Homo sapiens: one gene and its partners. The protein of the gene in region 2 purifies or fractionates together with the protein of the main gene of each other region. This does not show direct contact. Each region holds a gene or a part of one and is shown on either strand. Other genes may lie near its edges.

Region 1 (3,500 bases), on a different chromosome or scaffold from region 2:
CTCAAGTGATCCGTCCACCTCGGCCTCTCAAAGTACTGGGATTACTGCACCTGGCCTAGATGTCCCCCATCTTAAAATCAACTGTCCATATAGCTGGGCCCACGTCACTCTGGCTCCGCAAGCCTGCTTCTTTGGGAAGCTGACTCAGGGCACCTCCAAGTTGAGAGGCCCCTGTGAGCAGGCAGGGTCGGTGGTGCACATTCACCTCTAGCAGCTACAGCATCCTTTCCCCCTGCTCAGCTGCCATCATGCACTTGTAGGCAGGGGGAGTGCTTGAGGGCCCACTCTGCCCAGAGGCAGTGACCATGGATAGCACATGCTCCGCAGAACCATTTGGAATCTCCAGAGTGTTAGGCCAAAGTAAAGAACTGGAATCAAGAGCTCAGCAGAGGGACACATCCCCCGCCCCCCAATTCTTCCCTCCCACTCCTCTCCAAACTCTGCGGTTAACGGTTGACTCATATGACTATTTTTCCACCCTGGAAAGGTGAAGACTTAGAGGAGAAACAACAAAAAGAACAGGTATCTCTTCAAAATTATGAAGAGCTAGAAAGAAGGTACGCAGATTTTTTCTTCAAGTCCCAGAATACCAAACCATAGCAGCCCCTCAAAGTTAGAAGGAGGCCATCTTAATGAATACTGTTTGATTCGAAAGTGATAAACTTATATGATGCAACCTTTAATACTGCAGAGAAAAAAATGTTAAGAGTAAAAAGGAATTTAGAAAATTCACAAAAACATCACAGTGGGCATACTGGAGACCCAGAAAATATCATCAAAGCACTTATCTGGGGTACTTTCCACTCTGCCAGCCCAGGCTCTCCACATCCTATGCTCATTTACTCACTGAATTGCACAACACCTTGATAAGGTTGGTACTATTATTATCCCATTTTTTCAGATGAGAAAACTAAGGCCCAGAGAGGTCAAGTCGTTCTAAAGAAGAGGTAAGAGGCAGATTTTGACACAAGCTCATCTGTGCCTTCACTCTCTACACAACAGTGCCCCCGGTGACTACCAACCGCAGAGGGAGCATGCCAGCAAACTGCCACCTCCTCCCTGGCAAGGCTTTCAGAGCCCTCTCCAGCCAATGCGGCACAGTGAACTAGTGCCAGCAGGCTGGGATCAGCAAGTGGAGCTGCATGGTTCCTACCCTGACTCTGCTTGCTTCTCACTACTCTACACGCAGCCAGGATGCTCTCCTCTTCCCGGGTGGACTGGGACAGCCATCACTGGCCGGCCCTGCCAGCCACACTCACCTGTCGAGGATGGGTTTCTCCTGCTCCTCCTCGGGGCTGGCGCTGCCCAGGATCCGCTTCCGGGCCTCGGCGTACTCGGCCTCTCGCTGTGCTAGGGACTTGACTGGAAGGGTGGGCCTGCTGGTGGAGTTGGGGCTGCTGACCACACCGTTGCTGGTGGGCCTCTTGAGGATGCGGATCTGTGGAGGGGGCCCCGCGGGAAGGCTATCGTCCTGAATCACAATGGGCACTTTGGGAGGAGATTTGGATTTCCTGCTGACAAAGAGCAAACACAGCTTCACAAATCATGCTCCTGACTAAGGAGGCCCTGTCCATGTCCCACACCCACCTCTCATCACTTTCCTCTCCCTCCCTAATTCTACCCATGCATGATTCTCTGGCCTCTGACCAGACAGCAAAATTTCCACTCCTCAAGAAGGGTGTCCCAAAAAAGTAAGCTTGCGACCAGCTCTGACAGGCCACAGGAACTGCTCCTCAGCCCTAACCCCTGGCCACAGGGGCTGGAACGCCACCTCATTCTGGCACTTCTATCCCCATGTTCACCACAGCCACATCAACCACTATTTGGCCCTGCAGCAAAACAGTTTATGTCCAGAATTGAATGACGTCAGTTAAGATCCCAGCTTCTCTACGCAGATCAGAGTAGGACTGGCTGGTGGGGTGGGAGCCTTTGAACTTGGGGGTCAGCAGTGTTCACTCAGCCAAATCTTCCATCACATGCTCAAACCAGACAAACACTACAAAGGAGCCCACTACGCCATCCCTGCCTGGCATCAAGATTTACCAAGCCACCTTCTAGTGAGAGTGACCTGTGCCTCCCAGAGACAAGCTACACCAGACAACTGAATCCTCTTCAAAAAGCTTCTGAACAGAGAAACCTCCCTTGCCAGGGCTCCCTGGTCTTTTGGACAGCGGCGGGGCTGGAGTGAAGGATGCTCCTAGAAACAGTGCTTGGCAATGCTCAAAAGAAAAGCATTGTCCAAGGCTGGTGGACGCGTACATCAAGGCGATGTGTCCACAGGGAGAGGTGGAATGACAAAAAACAAAGAGGGACAACAACACAGGAAGGGAAAGAAACAAAAGCCACAGGAGGAGACAGGAACCCAGGCAGGAATGACCACCCGACAACAGCCACCAGGACCCTACCCAGAGCAGTCAACCAGCTTCTCTTCAGAACCAAACAAGCCTGCTTCCAGAGCCTTGGCTGTCAGGAGGAGTCGGGATTGGAGGAACTGAGCCAGGGTGGATGGAAACAAGTCTCGGGTAGGACACAAATGGTATGGAACGAGGACTGTAACCCAGGGTTAGCGTGGTTGCTGAGATGAGCAGACAGACAAGGAGCCAGCAATCTGATCAAAGAGGCAGGGAGCCAGGAAAACTAGCGGGCGGGCAGAGCACCCAGAGTTTCCTGGGGAATGACTGTGCAGCCCCGTGAGCAAATCCAGAGGGGCCCTATCCTCCTTCCTGTCCCTTGTACCTATGGAAAACCAACAGGTTCCCTAAGCCCAAAAGCAGAAAGCCGAAGTCAACTTTCACCTACTCTGGAAACACCCTCCTCTGTCGTCTAGGTGGAAAACAAAGCTATTTTTAAAGGTTTTTTCAAGAATTTCCTAGAATGTTTTCTTCCAGGATACCCTCATAATACCCTAGACCACCAAGTCACTGGGGACCCAGAGAAATCATCTGCCCACACTCCTCATGCCACAGAGAAAGAAACTGATGTCCAGATCTGGGAAATGACTTGCCCCAGACCTCAGAGCAACTGGGGCACTGCCAGGCCTAAAACTCAAGTCTTCCAACTTGTCACTTCCTCACATTGCATCAGATGACCTCACACAGGGAGCCCACGAAGGTCAGAGGCAGGTGCAACACCCCAGCCTCAACCCTAAAGCCTCAAGCCACCACGTCCTGGTCTCCAATTTGGAGGGAAGGGTTTGCTGCCCCAGAGCCTGACCTGCTAGGACCTGCTAATCCTAATGGCCAGCTGGAGAACACCACTGACTGCCCGGCTCTCAAACCACAGAGAGCATGAGCCCTCAGACCAGACAGCAGCCTTACCTCTCTTTTTGTGTGATCTTCAGTTTTTTTTCCAACCGTCTGTCTATTTCCTAGAGGAAAAAAATGTATATAAAAAGAGGAAAAAATCTCTCTCAAATAAAAACTTAGTCTTTATTTTTGGAGCTAAGGGCAGTGTCCTTTCTCTAGCCAGGGACATGACTGTGTCCTTCAACATAACAAATG
Region 2 (3,500 bases):
CAAGCAATTCTCTGCCTCAGCCTCCTGAGTAGCTGAGATTAAAGGTGCCTGCCACCATGCCCAGCTAATTTTTTGTATTTTTAGTAGAGATAGGGGTTTCAACATCTTGGTCAGGAGAATGAGACCATCCTGGCTAACACAGTGGAACCCCGTCTTTACTAAAAATACAAAAAATTAGCCAGGCATGGTGGCAGGCGCCTGCAGTCCCAGCTACTCAGGAGGGTGAGGCAGGAGAATGGAGTGAACCCGGGAGACGAAGCTTGCAGTGAGCCGAGATCGTGCCACTGTACTCCAGCTTGGGTGACAGAGCGAAACTCCGTCTCAAAAAAAAAAAAAAAAAAAATCATACAGGCAGCTGGTTGTGGTGGTTCATGCCTGTCATCCCAGCACTTTGGGAGGCTGAGGTGGACGGATCACCTGAGGTCAGCAGTTCAAGCCCAGCCTGGCCAACATGGTGAAACCTCATCTCTACTAAAAATACAAAAATCAGTTGTGTATGGTGGTGTGTGCCTGTAATCCCAGCTACTCAAGAGGCTGAGGCATGAGAATCGCTTGAACTTGGGAGGCAGAGGTTGCGGTGAGCCGAGATCGCGACACTGCACTCCAGCCTGGGCGAAAGAGCAAAACTCTGTCTCCAAAAAAAACAAAAAAACAAAAAACAAAAAAACAAAAAAAACCCAATACAGGGCAGGGCATGTTCTTTGATCATAGAGCAGTAAGTTAAAAATCAATAATCATTAGATATCTAGGAAAACCCAAACACTAGATAAACTTTTAAGTAATTCATGGATCAAAGAAGAAATCAGAAAACAAATTAACACGGATTAGTGGACATTTAAAGATTTATATACTCATGTTATAAAGAAAGCAGGATTAAAATAAATGATTTAAGATTCCACTTTAAAGGGTTTGAAAAAGAACAAAGAGGCCAGACACAGTGGCTCACACCTGTAATCCCAGCACTTTGAGAGGCTGAGGCAGGTGGCTCTCCTGAGGTCAGGAGTTGGAGAACAGCCTAGCCAACATGGCAAAACCCCATCTCTACTAAAAATACAAAAATTAGCAGGGCGGGTTGGGGCACGCCTGTAATCCCAGGCTACTTGGGAGGCTACTTGGGAGGCAGAGGCACAAAAATCTATTGAACCCAGGAGGCAGAGGCTGCAGTGAGCTGAGATCACACCACTGCACTCCAGCCTGGGCGACAGAGTGAGACTCTGTCTCAAAAAAAAGAAAAAGAACAAAGAAAAGCTAAACTAAGTAGAGGGAAGGAAACGATAAAAGAAAAAGAAACTTGGCCAGGTGTAGTGGCTCACACCTGTAATCCCAGCACTTTGGGAGGCCGAGGCGGGCAGATCACGAGGTCAGGAGATCGAGACCATCCTGGCTAACATGGTGAAACCCTGTCTCTACTAAAAAAAAAAAAAAAAAAAAAAAAAAAAAAAAAATTAGCCGGGCGTGGTGGCAAGAGCCTGAGGCGACAGAGCAAGACTCTGTCTCAAAATAAAAGAAAAAGAAAAAGAAAAAGAAACTGAATGGCTGGGCGTGGTAGCTCATGCCTGTAATCCCAGCACTCTGGGAGGCAGAGGCGGGTGGATCACCTGAGGTCAGGAGTTCGAGACCAGCCTGAACAACAAGGAGAAACCCCATCTCTGCTAAAAATACAAAAATTAGCTAGGCATGGTGGTGGGCACCTATAATCCCAACTACTCAGGAGGCTGAGGCAGGAGAATTGCTTGAAACCAGGAGGCGGAGGTTGCATTGAGCTGAGATCGCACCAGTGCACTCTAGCCTGGGTGACAGAGTGAGACTCCGTTAAAAAAAAAAAAAAAAGAAAGAAAAAGAAACTGAAGGGCCTTGGGGCTTGGGCCACATCTACCCTACCTCATTTGCTGCAGCTGCCATGGGAGTCGGATGGTTGACCGCATCACCCAGCGCAATGGCTAAGCGGAGATCCTTCTGAATGTATTTCAGGTAGAAATCAGGCTTAAAGTTTCCTTGCAGGATATCTGAGGAGAAAAAGCCAGTATCAGACAAAAGCCAAGGACCTGAAACTAAAAACTACTTACGGTCCACCAGGTGTCAGTACCTAAAACATACTCAGGGCTCAGTTCCACATAGCCTAGGCCTCTTGGCTCCTCACTCACCCTTAGACACCTGAGGGCTGCAGCTCCCAGCCTATATCCCCAAATCCCGCCCACTGTGTTTCTGAACCTCCTCTGGCCAGGGTCAGGGACTGACTGGGGAGGGGCATCTTTCACGCTCACTAAATCCCTGACCTAGTACCCTGCTCTAATCAAACACCAAATGCAAGAAGAGGGGCCAAAAACAACTCACTTTGGCACTTCTGGTCCAGGAAGATGCTGGCCAACTGTCCCTGATTGAGGATGTCCAAGAGTGTCTGCTGGGACTGGCCTGTCACCTGGGCCAGGGTCAGCCCCTCGGCAATAGTGGCCATGAAGCTCCCTTGGACCATGTTCACGATCAGCATCATCTTGGCTGCATTGCCCACTTCACCTGCCCAGGGTAAAGACTCACGGTCACAGCCCAAGAATGCCACAGACAGGGCTTCTCTGTCCACCCTCACCTCTGCTCAGACCCACCTCTCTCCAGGGGAGGCCCCCTTCACCTGCCCCCGACAGACTGGCTCTTCCTCCTTCCACGCACTGACTATGCAGGTGAAAGGAAACCTTCCCCAGGGTCCCCGGCAGAAAGGCCGTGTGGGACTGACGCTGTCATCAGTGTGAAACAGAGGAGATGTGGCCCCAGGCTCCAGGCCTGACAGGTGCAGGCGTGTTACCTAGGAAGAAGGAGGTCTTCCCCATCGCCTGGAAGCAGCTGCTGCAGTCCTCATATAAGCCCCTGTCTCCAGCCGCTAAGATCACCAACATCCCGTCATTAGACAGCTGCTGATTCCCTGAGACGGGGGCTTCCAGAAAGCGCCCCCCCCTGGACACAATCACCTGGAAAGAAAAGTCACAGCTTCTGGAGGCCTCCCCTCTCCCAGCGCTCTCTGGGCAGGACTCAAGGAGTGTTGCTGAGTGGCCACGGCTGCTCATCACCTTCCAGAGCTGGAGGGGACGGCCACCCATACCAAGGTCCTTTAGCTGACACCTAAACTCAGGAGCTAACCATGTGCAGGTCACACAGGCCGAATCACAGCAGTGATGAGACGCTGGGGTCTCCACACAGGAACCCAACTGACTTGGAATTTTTTTTTTTTTTTTGAGGTGGAGTCTCGCTGTCGCCCAGGCTGGAGTGCAGTGGAGCGATCTCGGATCACTGCAAGCTCCGCCTCGCGGGTTCATGCCATTCTCCTGCCTCAGCCTCCCGAGTAACTGGGACTACAGGCGTCCACCACCACGCCTGGCTAATTTTTTGTATTTTTAGTAGAGACAGGTTTCACCATATTAGCCAGGATTGTCTTGATCTCCTGACCTTGTGATCCGCCCGCCTCGGCCTCCCAAAGTGCTTGGATTACAGGAGTGAGCCACCACGCCTGG
Region 3 (3,500 bases), on a different chromosome or scaffold from region 2:
TAAAGAGCACTTTTAATTTGTACTTTTATTACTGACTTGATTCTTCTGTGAAACATTTAAAAGCTGAGATTTGTCAACAAAAGCAAAAAATTGATAAATCAGACTTCATCAAAATTAAAAACTTACATCAAAAGACGCTATAAATGAAGTAAAAAGCACACAGAATGGGAGAAAATATTTGCAAATTATATCTCTGGTAAGGAATTAATATCCAGAATTTGTAATAACAACAGAAAAACCAAACAACCCATTTTAAAATGGGTAAATGGATATTTCTCCAAAGAAGATATACAAATGGCTAATAAGCGTGCGAAAAGATTGCTCAACATCAGTAGTCATTAGGGAGATGCAGATCAAACTACAATGTGATAACACTTCATGTTCATTAGGATGGCTATTATTTTTTAAAAATGGAAAATAACAAGTGTTGCCAAGGATGTGGAGAAGTTGGAATCCTGTGCATTGCTGGTGGGAGTGTAAAATGGTATAGCCACTGTGGAAAACAGTTTGGGCACTTAAAAAATTAAATATGAAGTTACCATGTGATCCAGCAATTGTACTTCTAGGTAGATACCCAACCAAACTGAAAATAGGGATTCAAACAGATACTTGTAGGTCAGTGTTCACATTAGCACTATTCACAGTAGCCAAAGGTGTCAACAATCCAAATGGCCATCAACAGATAAATAGGGAAACAAAATGTGGTGTATTCATACAATGGAATATCATTCAGCCTTAAAAAGGAATGAAATTTTTCTACCACAATATGCATGAATCTTGAATGCATTAGGCTCAGCAAAATATATTGTATGATTCCACTTACATGAGGTATCTAGAATAGGCAAATTCATAAGTATAATAGTAATTATGAATTAGTACTATGGTATGAATAGTAGTACTCATGAATTTGCCTATTCTAGATACCTCTTGTAAGTACAATAGAGGTTGCCAGGGCTGGGGAAAGGGGGAATGAAGAGTTCTGTAAACATATAATGGTGGTGGTTGCACAACATTGTAAATATACTTAGTGCTACAGAGTTATACACTTAAAAATTGCTAAAATGGTGAATTTTATATATATGTATTTGTATATTTTGCCATAATTTAAAAGAAAAAGCTAATGGCTGTTTTACAAGGTTATAGACATCATTATGCCCATTATAATACAAAGTGTCAATGTGTTCTGTCTTAAAGGTGCTCTCATATATATTTAGTTGTTTTGTCACCATATTCTTTGTTATGCATTTGCTGATAGTTTACCTATCTTAATCCTTATTTTAAAAGCAACTAGCAGCCTTCTACTTCATCAGTTTCTGTTGCTTGATCTGTAATTACCTAAAGCTTTAGGTTATTTTGAATAATTTTCACTCTTAAAATAACATTTGTATGTATGTATTTATATTAAAATCAGTACTAATAGTATTTTTAATAAGTATTAAAACTATAATATATTCATTCTCTTGTTAAGAATTAAGAAATCCAGCTGTCATAGAAAAGTCTTCCCTCATTGCAGTATTTTGCTTGCAGGATGAAGATGAGCTGGATTCCCACACCATGGTGAAGACTAGTGTGGAGAGTGTGGGCACCATGCGGGCCACAAGCACGATGAGTGAAGGGGCCCAGACCATGATTGAACATAATAGCACGATGTTGGAATCCGACTTGGGGACCATGGTGATAAACAGTGAGGATGAGGAAGAAGAAGATGGAACTATGAAAAGTATGTGGCTTTTTTACATTAAATATTAGTTTTCTAATTCGAAAGGATACTTTTATAGGAACCAGGCTAGTTCTGTGTTACTTTTTATAGCCAACTGTGGAAAATTTTGTTTCTTAGATTTATGTAACAGTAAAAAAGAGTATGGCACAAGTCACCTTTTTAAAATTGTATTTTAATATAGCAGAAAACAACACATCTTCAACTTAGAGTTATGGAACTTTTTTCTGTTGAAGGTTGCTAACCCACGGCTTAATTTGCAAAGTATTTTAGAGAGAAAAAGATAGTGTTCCTAACATTTACTTTCCCAATTAAAAAAGTGAACCTAAAATTATCTTCCAGTAAATTCAACAGACTATTATTTTATGTTGTCCAAATTATCAGTTAAACCACAAAGAGCAGTGCGAGCTATGGGAAGAAATAAGGTGGGAAAATAAGAAGCACTAGAAAGAAGGATTAAGAGACAGGGATGCTCATACAGAAGATTCAGTTGCATGAATATTTACTGCTGCTTATCATATGTGAGGCACAGTGCTGGGGGTGCTGCAGTGGCTAAAATGATGATCAAACATTCTCTCTGACCTCTGTTGCTTACAAAGTGATGACAATAGGAATGCTTTCACAGACTAGCACTTCTCTTTTTTAAAAACAGTTTTTTAAGATACTGCAGTTAACATCGTAGGTCATTGTGATTTCACAGTTATAGGCAAAAATGAATTTTCTCTTAGCACCAACTGACCTTTTTCTTCCTGTCATGCTCCTACCCTAGTCCTGTGTGGTTAGTGTCAAAGTCTAAGCAAGCACTAGGCTGCTTTCCACTGAAGAGTATTGCCTCTCCATGGCAGAACAGCAGAATTACATGACTTCTAGCATTGTAGAACCTAGAAAATTGTAAATATTCAAGTGATTTGCTGGTACTGCAAAATGGATACCAGAATTTTCTCTCAGATACTTCCATTTCCTTTTTGCCCACCCTTTTCTTTTTGCTACTCCGCCATGAGGTCTGACCCATAACTTCAAGTCACGTGGCTCAGTACTGCTGCTTTCTTCACATTCCCTAGTTCTGTGTAGCCCACTATGGTTGCATATGTACTTTGGATAGAGAGGATCATGAAGCACAAAATGTAATAGATTGCTATATTGCCATAATCCTGGGGGTGGAGTATGAATTTTCTATCTCCTGCCATTGGTGGGTCTTCTGTGCCTTTTTCCTGGAAAGCAGCCTACATCTTGGATTTCCTGAAATTCCTAGCTGGGCATCTGACTAGAGTAAGTTTTCTGCATCCATAACGTGCCTCACTCCACTGCAGAGGATGGTCTTATGGCCTCCAGAACCAGCTAGTGTTGGGGTACAAGTGGATCACAAAGACTCTGTGGTAAAACAGTTAACACATTTTTCATCAACATGTAATATCAATTTTCCATAAGCTGATATAATTTTTAACTCAAATTTTATGATTCTTAACAGATCAATTAGATCATTGAGTGCTTTTTTGTGTCTTTAGGGAGTTACTGAGCTCCTTATGAAACTATATGAACAACTTTTCATGCAGTCATATAGTTGAACATCAGCATATATATAATAGTTAAGAAAAATGAGTCTTTATAGAATCTAATTCATTTAGATTGCAGTGTATTATATTTCAAGGAAGAGAGACTAATGATGATGTTTCCGACATCATACTTTATACCACAGATTTCTGACATTTTGTATAGTGACTTTTAGATTTGACATCCACAAAAATCAATACATGTTATAATTTTGTTATAACTGATTGTATAG
Region 4 (2,982 bases), on a different chromosome or scaffold from region 2:
TTGACCTATTTTTTTAAGTTCCATCTAAATAAAATTTCTCCTTTACAACATCCGCTATTGTCATTTCTCCTCCCCGTGGTTTTTGTGTCTTTTTAGCCTCTTGTTCATTTACTGCCTTTCATGTTCCCATGCTATTGCCTTGGTTTTTTAACAAAATTCTTCCTCTGTGCCTATCCTGTCTTACCTACAAATAGAATCTTCTTGAGGGCAAGGATGGTTTCTTGTACGGTGTATTGGCACTCGGTAAATAAATAATGAGAGAGGGATTGAGTGTTGGTATGAGAAAAGGAGCCTAATGGTTGCATTTGGATGAATGGGTGCTGAGAGATGGTATGTACATTTATACATTCTTGTCTCATCTTGTAAAATGTTTGAAAATAAGAGTAATTTTCAACTTGATTTTTCTTATTTTAGGCAAGTATATCGCGTCAACACAGCGACCTGACGGGACCTGGCGCAAGCAGCGGAGGGTGAAAGAAGGATATGTGCCCCAGGAGGAGGTCCCAGTGTACGTGGTTAGGCTTTGCGTAGGGGTTTTCTGATGGGGTCCCTACAGAAGGATAGAATATCCTTATGCCTACAAGTTCAGGGAGGACTCTCCTAAGCCCCAAGGAAATGGAAGGAGGGGCAACTATCTGAGAAAGGAGAGAAAGAGTCTGGGATTCAGGGATGAGTGAGGGTTACAGATCACTAGTCCTATACTTTTGACCTCTGTTCATTAGAACCTCCAGAGCTTTAGGTTCTAGGGACTTCGCTGCATCTTTCCTGCAGAGCAGAGGAAAGTTGGGGAGGGACCATAAAGAGAGAAAGGTGGTCAGGCCCAGTGGCCTACATCTGTAATCTGAGCACTTTGGGAGGCCTAGGCAGGTGGATTACTTGAGGTCAGGAGTTCAAGAACAGCCTCCCCAAAGTGGTGAAACCCCGTCTGTACTAAAAATACAAAATTACAAAATACAAACATCAGCCAGGCGTGGTGGCACGAGCCTGTAATCCCAGCTACTCAGGAGGCTGAGGCAGGAGAATCTCTTGAACCCGGGAAGTGGGAGGTTGCAGTGAGCTGAGATTGCGCCAGTGCACTTCAGCCCTGGCGACAGAGCGAGACTCTGTCTCAAAAACAAACAGGCAGGCGCAGTGGCTCTCTGTAATCCCAAGCACTTTGGGAGGCCAAGATCGGTGGATCACCTGAGGTCAGGAGTTGAAGACCAGCCTGACCAACATGGTGAAACCCCATCTCTACTAAAAATACACAGTTAGCCAGGCGTGGTGGCAGGCGCCTGTAATCCCAGCTACCCGGGAGGCTGAGGCAGGAGAATTGCTTGAACCCTGGAGGTGGAGGTTGCAGTGAGCTGAGATTGCGCCATTACACTCCAGCCTGGGCAACTGAGCGAGACTCTATCTCAAAAAACAAACAACCCCACAAAAACAACAACAAAAAAAGGAAGCAAGAATGTAATGAGGATGAAGTGTTTGGAAGTTTAAGAAAAGGGATCAAAAAGTCAGTAATTCTCTGAAACTCTTGACATCCTTTGTTTCCTGCAGATATGAAAACAAGTATGTGAAGTTTTTCAAGAGTAAACCAGAGTTGCCCCCAGGGCTAAGCCCTGAGGCCACTGCTCCTGTCACCCCATCCAGGCCTGAAGGTGGTGAACCAGGCCTCTCCAAGACAGCCAAACGTAACCTGAAGCGAAAGGAGAAGAGGCGGCAGCAGCAAGAGAAAGGAGAGGCAGAGGCCTTGAGCAGGACTCTTGATAAGGTGTCCCTGGAAGAGACAGCCCAACTCCCCAGTGCTCCACAGGGCTCTCGGGCAGCCCCCACAGCTGCATCTGACCAGCCTGACTCAGCTGCCACCACTGAGAAAGCCAAGAAGATAAAGAACCTAAAGAAGAAACTCCGGCAGGTGGAAGAGCTGCAGCAGCGGATCCAGGCTGGGGAAGTCAGCCAGCCTAGCAAAGAGCAGCTAGAAAAGCTAGCAAGGAGGAGGGCGCTAGAAGAGGAGTTAGAGGACTTGGAGTTAGGCCTCTGAGGCCTTTGGGGAATAGGGAATGGACTGCAGAACAAACCGTGGGGCTCTCTGGGGTCTGGGGGAATACGGGCAACAGCAGTCAGGAGGGGTACCCCCCATACTGGCTTACTTCCACCTCCTGCGGCCCAGCTCTGTCCTCCAGAGCCTAGCGTCTCCCTCAATCCTTCCCTTTTCTTCCCAACTTCTACTTTTTGGACTTTCCCCCTCCCATTCCCAGTGTTCAAAATCTCAGTGACTACCCCAGGTACCTTTGCTGCTGATTTGGGTGTCTTGTTTAAAAGAAAATCAGGTGGGTGGGAATCTCTTGGAGAACTGAGGCTGAGGGTAGAGGGAGTATGCCCAAGTCTTGGAGTCTTGGTTCCTGTTCGCGGTGTTTATGGGTTATTTCCCTCTCCATCCCTCATTTTTTTTTTTTTTTTAAAAAAAGCAAAAATGAGAATAAACACAAGTAGACATGTCTGGCTTTGCCTCCTTATTTTCAGCTCCTAGTAGATATTGTATCTCCTGAGTTTGGCACAGGAAGACAAGTATTGGGAGTGATTTCTTTTCTTTTCGAGACAGAGTTTTGTGCTGTTGCCCAGGTTGGAGTGCAGTGACGTAATCTGGGCTCACTGCAAACTCTGTCTCCTGAGTTCACGCAGTTCTCCTGCCTCAGCCTCCCTCCCGAGTAGCTGTGATTACAGGTGCCCACCACCACACCTGGCTAATTTTTTAGTAGAGATGGGGTTTCACCATGTTGGCCAGGCTGGTCTTGAACTCCTAATTTCAGGTGATCAACCCACCTTGGCCTCCTAAAGTGCTGGGATTTTAGGCATGAGTTACTGTGCCCAGCCGATATATATTTTTTTCTTTTTCTTTTTTTGTGAGATGGAGTCTCGCTCTGTCTGCCAGGCTGGAGTGTAGTGGCGCGGTTTCAGCTCACTGCAACCTCTGCCTCCCGGGTTCAAGCAATTCTCCTG
Region 5 (3,500 bases), on a different chromosome or scaffold from region 2:
AGGGCTGCTTCTGGGAAGGGTGGCAGGCACACTGAACTGGGGATAGGGTTAAAGGAGGCTTTGGCTATATTTCTAATTGCTTTTCCTTTAAACAAATAACCAGAAGCAAAAAAAAAAAAAAAAAAAAAGATGTTAGCAAATGTTAATTCTCAGTTATAGAAAAATGGCTCTTAATTACATTATTATACTTTTGTTAACCATAAATTTCTTAGAAAAATAAAGGAAAAGGATTTCAAAGTGCTTAGTTTTGTGATACCTCATCCCCTACACCTACTTAGATAGGCAGGCCACAACATACGCAGAAGCTGTGTTCTCAAAGTTCATTGGTTTTTAGACCTTATTTGTTTTCCCATCAACACAATGTTATACCTAACTGTTAGGTTCCAAGGCCAGCTCTCCCATTATTTAATGTATAACCTAACAAATGTTAAGCCTAACAGTACCTCTCTCACCTTCTCTAATCATGAGGCAACTGATCACTCACGATATGGCAAAAAGGGAACCCAAGAGTTGAGTTTACCCCTGCTCCTGACAGGGCACAGGCTAGATGTTTCTTTTCTTTTCTTTCTTACTTTCTCTCCCCTCTCTGTCTTTCTTTCTTTCTTATAATAGAGATGGGCCTCACCATGTTGCACAGGCTGGTCTCAAATTCCTGGCTTCAAGCAGTCCTCCTGCCTCAGCCTCCCAAAGTGCTGGGATCACGGGCATGAGCCACGGTGCCCAGCCCAGGCTTGGTTGTTTCTTTTCTTTTTTCTTTTTTTTTTTTTTTTTGAGACAGAGTTTTGCTCTTGTCATGCAGGCTGGAGTGCAATAGCATGATCTCAGCTCACTGCAACCTCCACCTCTCAGGTTCAAGCGATTCTCCTGCCTCAGCCTCCTGAGTAGCTGGGACTACAGGTGCCTGCCACCAGGCCTGGCTAATTTTTGTATTTTTAGTAGAGATAGGGTTTGACCAAGTTGGCCAGGCTGGTCTCAACCTCAGGAGATTCGCGTGCCTCAGCCTCCCAAAGTGCAGAGATTACAGATATGAGCCATTGCACCCAGCCCCAGGCTAGGTGTTTCTGTGTACAGAATGTTTTCAAGTTTGCTGGTCAGGCTTTATACATACATACATACATACATACGTACATATACATACATACACTTATATGCACACATGTATATATATAAAATATATACATATATAATATACACATATATCTTTAAAATATATAATATAAACTAAGTATGTATCAACTTATAAACTATACACACATATATGATATAAACTAATATAGTAATGTGCCACATAAGGATGTTTTGGTCAAGAACGTACCCCATATTCCACGGCAGTCCCGTTAAGACTATGATGGAGCTGAAAAATCCCTACAGCCTAGTAACACAGCTTTCATGATGTTGTAGCACAAAGCATTACTCACATGCCTGTGGTGATGCTGGTGTAAATAAACCTACTGCACTGTCAGTGTTATAAAAGTATAACACATACAATTATGTACAGTACATAACACTTGATAATGATAATAAACAACTACATTACTAATTCACATGTTTACTATACTATATATTATTATTTTAGAGTGTAACTCTACTTATTTAAAAAATTAACTATAAAACAGCTTGAGGCAGGTCCTTCAGGAGGAATTCCTGAAGAACGCACTGTTATCCTAGGAGATGACAGCTCCATGCCTATCACTGTCCCCGAAGGCCTTCCAGTGGGATGAAATGTGGAGATGGAAGGCAGTGACACTGATGATCCTGACCCTGTCTAGGTCCAGGCTAATGTGTGCGTTTGTGTCTTGGTTTTTAACAAAGAAGTTTAAAAGGTAAAAAGAAAGTTAAAAAATTTAAAGTAGAAAACAGCTTACAGAATAAAAATATACAGAAAATATTTTTGTACAGCAGTACAATGTGCTTGTGTTTTAAACTGTTATTACAAAAGGGTCAAAAAGCTGTAAAAAAATTTTTTAAGTTCATGAAGTAAATAATTTACAGTAAGCTAGGTTTAATTTATTATTGAAAGAAAAAAGCGTATGAATAAATTTAGTGTAGCTTAAGCATACCGTGTTTATTTTTATTTTTCATAATGTCTGCTCAGTAACAAGTGTACAGTGTTTATAAAGTCTACAGTAGTGTACACTCATATCCTAGGGCTTCACATTCATTCACCACTCATTCACTCACTCACCCAGAGCAACTTCCAGGCCCACAAGCTCCATTCATGCTAAGTTCCCTAGATAGGTCTATCATTTTTTATCTTTTATAACATATTTTTACTTTACCTTTTCTATATTTACATATGTTTAGATACAAAAATATTTACCATTGTGTTCCAATTGCCTGCAGTATTTAGTACAGTAACATACTGTGTAGGTTTGTAGCCTGTAGCCTAGGAGCAACAAGCTATACCATATAGCCTAGGTGTGTAGTAGGCTATGCCATCTACATTTGTGTTAAGTACACTCTATGATGTTCACATGACAAGGAAATTTCCTACTGACAATGTATTTCTACTGTTAAGTGATACATAACTATATGTATATTAGTTTGTATTGTTCAGTAATGGAGAGATTGTGTTAGACTCTAGGGGCCAGGGATCAAGTAACTGTACTAGGGTCCCCAACACTTAGGTGCCATGGCAATAAATAAATGAAGAGCTAACCAAATGCCTGCATTCTGGACAGCTCTGTTTAAAAGGTATTTCATGGAGTTTTTCATTTAATCAATAGAAATCCAATCACTAGGCCAGGCATGGTACCTCACGCCTGTAATCCCAGCACTTTGGGAGGTGGAAGCGGGTGGATCATTTGAGGTCAGGAGTTTGAGACCAGCCTGGTCAACATGGTAAAACCCCACCTCTACTAAAATACAAAAATTAGCCGGGTGTGGTAGCACATGCCTGTAATCCCAGGTACTTGGGAGCCTGAGGCAGGAGAATCGCTTGAACCCAGGAGGCGGAGGTTACGGTGAGTGGAGATCGCACCACTGCACTCCAGCCTGGGCGACAAGAGCGAAACTCTGTCTCAAAAAAAATAAAAATAAAAAAAGAAAAAAAAAAAGAAATCCAATCAATAAAAGCAGAGAATAGTTTCCATTCAGTAAGTGGTAAACAACAACTAATGCATTTGGCACTTTCTCTTTCACAGCTTCTATCTAAAGCCAATCTCATGAGGCACCAACTTTCATACCAGGCACTATCACTTCTCTGCTTCCTATATCTCCCTCCTCTCCCAGAGACAGAATGTTTCAGAAAGTAGATTTGCTGCCTAAGATTCATGTCATTGAAGCTGCAGTAGAAGAGTCATTTAATATATGAAATATAAGGCAAGACTTTTCAAAAAAAATTCTCTCTCAGAAAATACAAGTCACTTTATATTCAAATACTTACAAAGTACCTCTTGCTGTAGGAAGTTTTGCAATTTCCTTATTTTGAATACAAAGTACCAGCTGGGGATGACACAATACCCTAAAACAACCTCAGTTAAGGCTGCTTTGGCTAATGG
Region 6 (3,500 bases), on a different chromosome or scaffold from region 2:
TCTAGCATGTTCCCATGTCGGTCTTCCAACCTGTTAGAATTACAGGCCTGAGCCACTTTGCCTGCCACACACCCTTTTTAAAAAGCATTGCTGGATTTTCCCTTTGCACAGGGTGAAATCAAATCATTGATGAATGAGCATCAACCTACTAGGCCAATGAGAATCTGAGCTAAGTGTCCCTACCTGGGTGACCCGTGTGGTATATACTCCCAGAATTGAATACTAACTCCTGTGTCTGCCTTTATTTTTTCCTGTGTCTTGTTTCTTACTTTAACGGGGAATGAACTAAGATCAAATACAAAGTGATTTCTAGGAACATGAAACCACTTTCTTTTTTAGAGACAGGATCTCACTATGTTGCCCAGGCTGTTATCAAACACTTGGGCTCAAGTGATCCTCCCACCTCCGCCTCTGCCTCCTGAGCAGCAGCAGGCGCCCTCTGGCAAAACCACTTTTAATTCCAGAATTTCAGGCTCCCTTTTCTCTATCATATCTGTGTGCTTTTTCAATAAAAATTAATTTGCTTCTAATTGAAAACTAAAAATTGTATATATTTATGGCATATAGCATAATATGCTTTGTAGTATTACAAACATTGTTAAATGGCTAAATTGAGCTAATATTCATATGCCCTACCTCATGTACTAACCATTTTTGGTTTTGAGAATACTTGAAATCTAATTTTTTTTAAGCAGTTTCCAAGTATACAATACATTGTTATGAACTGAAGTCACCATGTTGGACAATTGCTCTTTTGAATTGATTTCTTCAATTGAAATTTGTACTCTTTGACCTATATCTTCCCAACCCCTACCCCAGCCCTGGTAACTATTCTACTCACTACTACTATGAGTTCCACTGGGTTTTTAATTATTATTTATGTTATTTACTTCTTTTTAAATTTTTTTTTGTAATTTGAACTTGTGTTTTAGATTCAGTGGGTACCTGTGCAGATTTGTTGCATGAGTATATTGAGTGATGCTGAGGTGTGAGGTATGACTCTACCCATCACCCAGGATATGAGGATAGTACCCAATAGGTAGTTTTTCAACCCTCCCTCCCTCTATCCCTCCAGAGTTTCACTGTTTTGGAGTCCACGTCCTGATTTCCTTTCCTCTGTGTACCTGCCCCGGAGCGGGATTGCCGGATCATGCAGTTGTTGGACTTTCAATTTTCTGAGGAGCTTCTATACTGTCTCCCATATCGGCTGCTCTAATTTACATCCCAGCACAGGGCGCAGAGGACCCCTTTCCCCCAAATCCTCACCAACACTCGTTCCATGTGTCTTTTTGGGAACAGCCACTCTAGCAGGCGTGAGGGGTGCCTTGTGGTTTGGATTTGCATGTCCCTGATGATGAGTGATAATGAGCACCTTTTCCTAGACCTGCTGGCCATTCACATGTCTTCATCTGAGATGTCCACACAGGCGCCTTAAGCCCTTCTAGTGGGTTATGTGTTTTCTCGCTCTGGAGGAGTTTGAGTTGCTTATGTTTTGCACAGGAGCCCCGTGAGATGTGTGGTGTGTAAATATTGTCTCCTCCTCTGGGTTGTCTCCCGCCTCTGCCGATTGTCTCCCTGGCTGTCTCTCTGTTCTGCACTTGCTCAAAGTCCTTCCAGGAAGTGTGGGGCACTCGCCCTCCAGGCTACCAGTGACTTTTCCCAAGACCCTTCTGCCAGTTTTTTCTCCCCTCTGCAGACCTTCAGGTTGCTTCCCCCACCTGTGTCTAGGAAAGCAGGGCTGTGTTCTCATAGCTGTTGAACTTGGACGATAATTGATGCCTGGAGAGTATCACTCAGTGGCTCCTGCCTAATGAAGCTAGGTTTAGGAATTAATTTTTAAAAATCTTATTATTGTATCAACCCACTTCTTTAAAATATCAAAGAGCACTAGACTTTAAATCCATTTTCTGAGATGAGATTAGGAATACAGAAACCCTTAGAGACAGAAGGTAGATTAGTGATTGCTAGGGGCTGGGGTGGGTGGGCAGGGGGTGATCACTGATGGGGATGGGGTTGCTTTTGGGTTGATGAGATAATTCTGGAAGTAAACAGTGGTAATGGTTGTACAACATGGTGCATGTCTTAGTCCCATAAAATCGTGAACTTGAAGAGAGTAAAAAATGATGAAATTTATGAATGTACATTTTACCAAAATAACAAAATATCTGTGTAGGTGCTTAATCCTCATAGGATCCTTTAATGCTGTCCCTTCCCTGGAGCAAGTAAATGTTCTGGAGTTAACAAGAATATGTGTTGGGGAAAATATTACATTCTAACTCTTTTTCTCTATCCTTTTGCATAATTATGACTAAGGGCTTTGCCTTGGATCTTGTCCTGATGGGGAAACATAAAGGGCTTACTTTATTGTTGCATCACATTTTCAGAGCTTCACCTAACTATCTTATTTAATTTATAGTCAAGAACAATGTTGTTCCAATTGACAGGAAAACTGATTCAGCCTCTGCACAGTGATTTCCTAGAGATCAGAATCCAGGGGTCATTAAGATTTTAAACCAGAGTATGTAGTCAGGTATAGACACTGGAAGATTTCCACTGTGCTGAATTCGATGCTGCTGAAGAAGTGGCATCCAGGATGAGGGATTTCGAAGGGAGGGATGGATGGAGTAGTAACTTAAACTAATGAGGCTCATACTTTTCCCCCCCAGACTTCTGAATGAACAGTGAATCTATTACTGAGGAAAACCAGAGGAAGCCTGTGTAGATAGGTATCAATTAGATACCAGCTACTGGAAGAGCTTTCTCAGAGACTGATTAAAAAATTCTCCACTAGATATGGCTGCAAATTGCACATCCTCATGGAGTCTAGGAGAATCCTGCAACAGACCTGGGTTGGAGCTGCCACGGTCTATGGCATCCTCAGAAACTCAACTTGGAAATCACGACGTGGACCCTGAGATTTCTCACGTGAACTTCAGGATGTTCAGCTGCCCGAAGGAGTCGGACCCCATCCAGGCTCTGAGGAAACTCACTGAGCTGTGCCATCTGTGGCTGAGGCCCGACCTCCACACCAAAGAGCAGATCCTGGACATGCTGGTGATGGAGCAGTTCATGATCTCCATGCCCCAGGAGCTCCAGGTCTTAGTCATGATGAACGGTGTGCAGAGCTGCAAAGACCTGGAGGACCTGCTACGAAATAACAGAAGACCCAAGAAATGGGTGAGTGGGACCCTCGTGATTGGTGCAGGGAAGGGGAGCTGGGATGGGGGCTGCACGGTGCAGCTGGACTCGAGAGGACCCGAGGGGCTGCTCTAGGTCAGGGCTTCCAAGTAGAGGAGAGTTTGCCCGTCGGGGACACATGGCAGTGTCTGGGGACAGTTTTTGTTGTCAGGGAGGACAGGAGACGCTGCTAAGCGTTCTCTAACGCTCAGGACAACCCATCATGACAAATAATCATCCAGATTCCAATATCAGCTGTGCTGAGACGGCAAGTTCCTGGTGTAGGAGATGGACAGGCAGAGGGGGTACAGGGACCCACACAC
Region 7 (3,500 bases), on a different chromosome or scaffold from region 2:
AAACAATTCCATTTGCAACAGCATCAAAAAGAATAATCAGGAATAAACTTAACTGAAGAGGCAAAAGACTTGTTTACTGAAAACCAAAAAACACTGCTGAAAGAAATTAAAGTAGACACAAATAAATGAAAAACATTCCGTACTCATGGACTGGGAGACTTAAAGTTGTTAAGATGTTAATACTACCCAAGCAATCTACAGATTCAATACAATTCCTATCAAAATCCAATGTGTGTGTATATATACGTTTTTACAGAAACAGAAAAATCCATCCTAAAACTCACAGGGAATCTCAAAAGATACCAAATAGCCAAAACAATCTTGAAAAGAACAACAAAAATGCAGATCTCATATTTTCTGATTTCAAAACTTATTACAAAGCTGTAATAAGTTTCTGTAGTTTGCTGACCCCTGCTTCAGAGGATTTCATCGAGTGTGACAGCAGCAGAGACGGAACTCACAGACCCATGCACCTCAACCTTAGGGTCTAGGAACGTCATCTGGTTTTTAGAGAATTACAGAGAGTGCTCAAAAGTGTGGCTGCTGGTCACCAGTGCAAACAGGATTTCATTAGCTTCTCAATCTGCTCTAGTAAGTCCTTTGTGAACAGAAATACCCTCCCAGTAGTATGCTCATTCAGTAAGCTAGTTAATGTCTGAAAAATTCACGTTCCAACTCTATTATCAAATGGAACGATTACTTTTTATTGGTTTTTAGAAAAACACAGAATTTTCAATAGATGACATCCGTCTTTTCATTATCCCACCTTCCTTTCTGAATCCTTCCTCCTGCTACCTATTCTGTAAATGATCAGTAGCATTCTGAGAGTTATACTTCCCAGTGAATTAGGGAGTCAATGTTTCTGCCATTTCTACTGTGCATGTTTTCATGCTGTTTTAGTTAAGTAGAAAATTCTCTGCATTGACGAAAGTATCTTTATTTTGCCTAATTCTAATGACTGGCAGATGTGACAGATTAACATGGCTTGAGTTATAAAAGCTCCATTATCACTAGAAGCAGGGAGAGATTAGAAGCTTCCATTTAGTTTTACAGCCAAGGGAAAGCTAATGAGAATTCTAAAACTTTTTTTTCAAGAAATTAACAAAACACATGGATTAAAGGTATAATGCACCGCAACTGTTTTAACAGCTAGAAGAATAAAGAACTTTTTTTCTTTCTTTTCTTTTTCTTTTTTTTTGAGACGGAGTCTCACTCTGTCACCCAGTACAACCTCGGCTCACTGCAACCTCTGCCTCCTGGCTTCAAGCGATTCTCCTGCCTCAGCCTCCTGAGTAGCTGGGATTACAGGCACCCGCCACTATGCCCGGCTAATTTTTTGTATTTTTAGTAGAGATGGGGTTTCACCACGTTGTCTAGGCAGGTCTTGAACTCCTGACCTCGTGACTCGCCTGCCTTGGCCTCCCAAAGTGCTGGGATTACAGGCGTGAGCCACCATGCCCAGCCAAAGAATTCTTTTTCAAGAGGTTTTAGTTCAACCTGTCTATCCTAGGACATGAGGTTTCCAGAGCTTGTCTGCAGGGATGACACATTTACTCTTAGTCTCTTGGGCTTCCAAAGAAAGCGGAAGCTGTCAGAGGAAGCTACTCAATGAGTTAGAGAGACGTTACCTGAATCCACGCCTGCTGTTTGATGTCGCCTTTGTGGGTTTTACCTTCATAGCCTTTGCCACCATACTTCTGATCTTCACTTATGCATTTCACGTGGTTTTTATAGTCATCGCCCCTTTAAAGTGATCAAAAGTTCTGCCATTAGACTGATACCCAAGTTGGAGGCGCTAATACCAGCATGCTGCCACTATCTTCTGTGGTCTACACTGTATATTTTCACATGTGTCTATCACACAAGCACCCCATCTATTTCACTTATTATGTTTACAGCCTCCTGGTCAGAACCACATCCCCCTTCCTCCAAAGTCGTCAATATAAAACCCATCACCAAACTTTTCCCCCATTTTTATAAACACCTTAAGCTAAATTGATAGGCAGTATTTTTTTAAGTCATAAGTGTACATATACTGAATAAACAAGAAAATAGTTCTATGCAATAGGGTAGTTTTTTTAAATTATAAAAATCTCAATGTCTAATAGACAGTCAATAATTAGTTGTAGAATAAATCAAAAACAGATATAAAATGGCAGCATGAGGTTACCAACAGTTCTGGATCCCTTAGGGTCCTGAGAAAAAAGAAAACTAAATTCTCTCTCATATAATCTTTGTAAAGCTCTATGGGGTTCTTCAGGGAAATGTTGGGGACAAGGTCCAGGGCAAAGTCCCCTAATGAAAACTCAATTTTAACCTACTTTATATATCAAGCTTCCTCCTAGGATTACGTCTGAACAGAGGTTAGCAGTTTCCAAAAAAAATCACTGCTCCAGAATGAATTAAAAGAGAGTATTAGCCAGTACCATCCGAATGCCTCAGAGGACACTGGGGCAGATGCAGCCAGAAGCCAGCTTCTCGCCTGGACCTTCTGAGGCTGAAGGGGAATCAACATGAAATTCAAGAGGGGAGCCCTCTGCAAACGACCCACCTGAAGAACCGGTGTCTAAGGCAGGATCTGTCCTGTCCCTCCCCGCTAACTCCTCACATTCACAGAGGCCTCCTCAGTGGAAGTGTCTCCTGACACACCCGTGGGGCCAGGAAGAGCCTCACTTCCACCAGCACCTCTGATTTTCTAGGGAGGACATAGTTTCCTCTGCTACCAGTCATCTGCCCCACTGTGAGCTCATAAATTCACTTTCTGGTTCATAAGTCCATCTCTCCACTGTGATGGGCATGTGATACCCATGGTCTAATGAAACTGGCTCTAAACCCCTGGAGCCATCTTCCACGCAGTTAGTTCCCTGGGTCTGTAAACAGTGGCAATGCAATAGCAACCAGTGTCACCAACTGACTGAACACTCTAATCATCATAATTCCCCTTCCCCTAGTCTTTTCTTTAACATATCCTCAAAAAGCAAATTGTTTCGTAAAGCACATTTCTCCCCCCCAAGAAGGGGTTAACTTGCTCTGTTGCCCAGGCTGGAGTGCAGTGGTGAAATCTCGGCTCACCGCAACCTCTGCCTCCTGGGTTCAAGCGATTCTCCTGCCTCAGCCTCCCGAGTAGCTGGGATTACAGGCGCCCACCACCACGCCTGACTAATTTTTGTATTTTTAGTAGAGACAGGGTTTCACTATGTTGGCCAGGCTGGTCTTCAACTCCTGACCTCATGAGCCACCCACCTTGGCCTCCCAAAGTGCTGGGATTACAGGCCTGAGCCACTGCGCCCGGCCTAGTAAAGCACATTTGAAAGAATCACACCAGTTTTAATCAATGGAACATACCAGTTTTTAGTCTTAATTTCATTCTTCAAATTTGCCACTATTTTTCCAAGCTTTGTGGCGCCAAGGCTTCCAAAACTGATCTGGATTTACTATGGATCTACATGAATTCTGTGAAGCTTACCAGAAATCTTTACCGCAGTCAATGCAAGAAAGGC

What was found.
Region 1: the proteins of GLYR1 (region 2) and SZRD1 purify together in Homo sapiens (co-immunoprecipitation; one large-scale study listed by IntAct). This does not show direct contact.
Region 3: the proteins of GLYR1 (region 2) and STK3 purify together in Homo sapiens (affinity purification with mass spectrometry; one large-scale study listed by BioGRID and IntAct). This does not show direct contact.
Region 4: the proteins of GLYR1 (region 2) and PYM1 purify together in Homo sapiens (co-immunoprecipitation; one large-scale study listed by IntAct). This does not show direct contact.
Region 5: the proteins of GLYR1 (region 2) and FNTB purify together in Homo sapiens (affinity purification with mass spectrometry, with the first as the bait; 2 studies listed by BioGRID). This does not show direct contact.
Region 6: the proteins of GLYR1 (region 2) and ZSCAN5A purify together in Homo sapiens (co-immunoprecipitation; one large-scale study listed by IntAct). This does not show direct contact.
Region 7: the proteins of GLYR1 (region 2) and LYAR purify together in Homo sapiens (affinity purification with mass spectrometry; one large-scale study listed by BioGRID and IntAct). This does not show direct contact.

The regions. Positions count from the first base shown.
Region 1 is NC_000001.11:16,391,242-16,394,741, reverse strand, and holds part of SZRD1 (SUZ RNA-binding domain-containing), read right to left. Parts: intron 3,368-3,500; coding exon 3,318-3,367; intron 1,515-3,317; coding exon 1,260-1,514; intron 1-1,259.
Region 2 is NC_000016.10:4,809,289-4,812,788, forward strand, and holds part of GLYR1 (cytokine-like nuclear factor N-PAC), read right to left. Parts: intron 2,961-3,500; coding exon 2,798-2,960; intron 2,515-2,797; coding exon 2,335-2,514; intron 2,007-2,334; coding exon 1,882-2,006; intron 1-1,881. UniProt on the Homo sapiens protein: Cytokine-like nuclear factor with chromatin gene reader activity involved in chromatin modification and regulation of gene expression. Acts as a nucleosome-destabilizing factor that is recruited to genes during transcriptional activation.
Region 3 is NC_000008.11:98,546,189-98,549,688, reverse strand, and holds part of STK3 (serine/threonine-protein kinase 3), read left to right. Parts: intron 1-1,527; coding exon 1,528-1,720; intron 1,721-3,500. UniProt on the Homo sapiens protein: Stress-activated, pro-apoptotic kinase which, following caspase-cleavage, enters the nucleus and induces chromatin condensation followed by internucleosomal DNA fragmentation.
Region 4 is NC_000012.12:55,900,913-55,903,894, reverse strand, and holds the end of PYM1 (partner of Y14 and mago), read left to right. Parts: intron 1-414; coding exon 415-508; intron 509-1,539; coding exon 1,540-2,023; 3' UTR 2,024-2,482; downstream 2,483-2,982. UniProt on the Homo sapiens protein: Key regulator of the exon junction complex (EJC), a multiprotein complex that associates immediately upstream of the exon-exon junction on mRNAs and serves as a positional landmark for the intron exon structure of genes and directs post-transcriptional processes in the cytoplasm such as mRNA export, nonsense-mediated mRNA decay (NMD) or translation.
Region 5 is NC_000014.9:64,993,395-64,996,894, reverse strand, and holds part of FNTB (protein farnesyltransferase subunit beta), read right to left. Parts: intron 1-3,500. UniProt on the Homo sapiens protein: Essential subunit of the farnesyltransferase complex. Catalyzes the transfer of a farnesyl moiety from farnesyl diphosphate to a cysteine at the fourth position from the C-terminus of several proteins having the C-terminal sequence Cys-aliphatic-aliphatic-X.
Region 6 is NC_000019.10:56,224,340-56,227,839, reverse strand, and holds part of ZSCAN5A (zinc finger and SCAN domain-containing protein 5A), read left to right. Parts: intron 1-2,666; 5' UTR 2,667-2,793; coding exon 2,794-3,177; intron 3,178-3,500.
Region 7 is NC_000004.12:4,280,155-4,283,654, forward strand, and holds part of LYAR (cell growth-regulating nucleolar protein), read right to left. Parts: coding exon 3,467-3,500; intron 1,744-3,466; coding exon 1,629-1,743; intron 1-1,628. UniProt on the Homo sapiens protein: Plays a role in the maintenance of the appropriate processing of 47S/45S pre-rRNA to 32S/30S pre-rRNAs and their subsequent processing to produce 18S and 28S rRNAs. Also acts at the level of transcription regulation.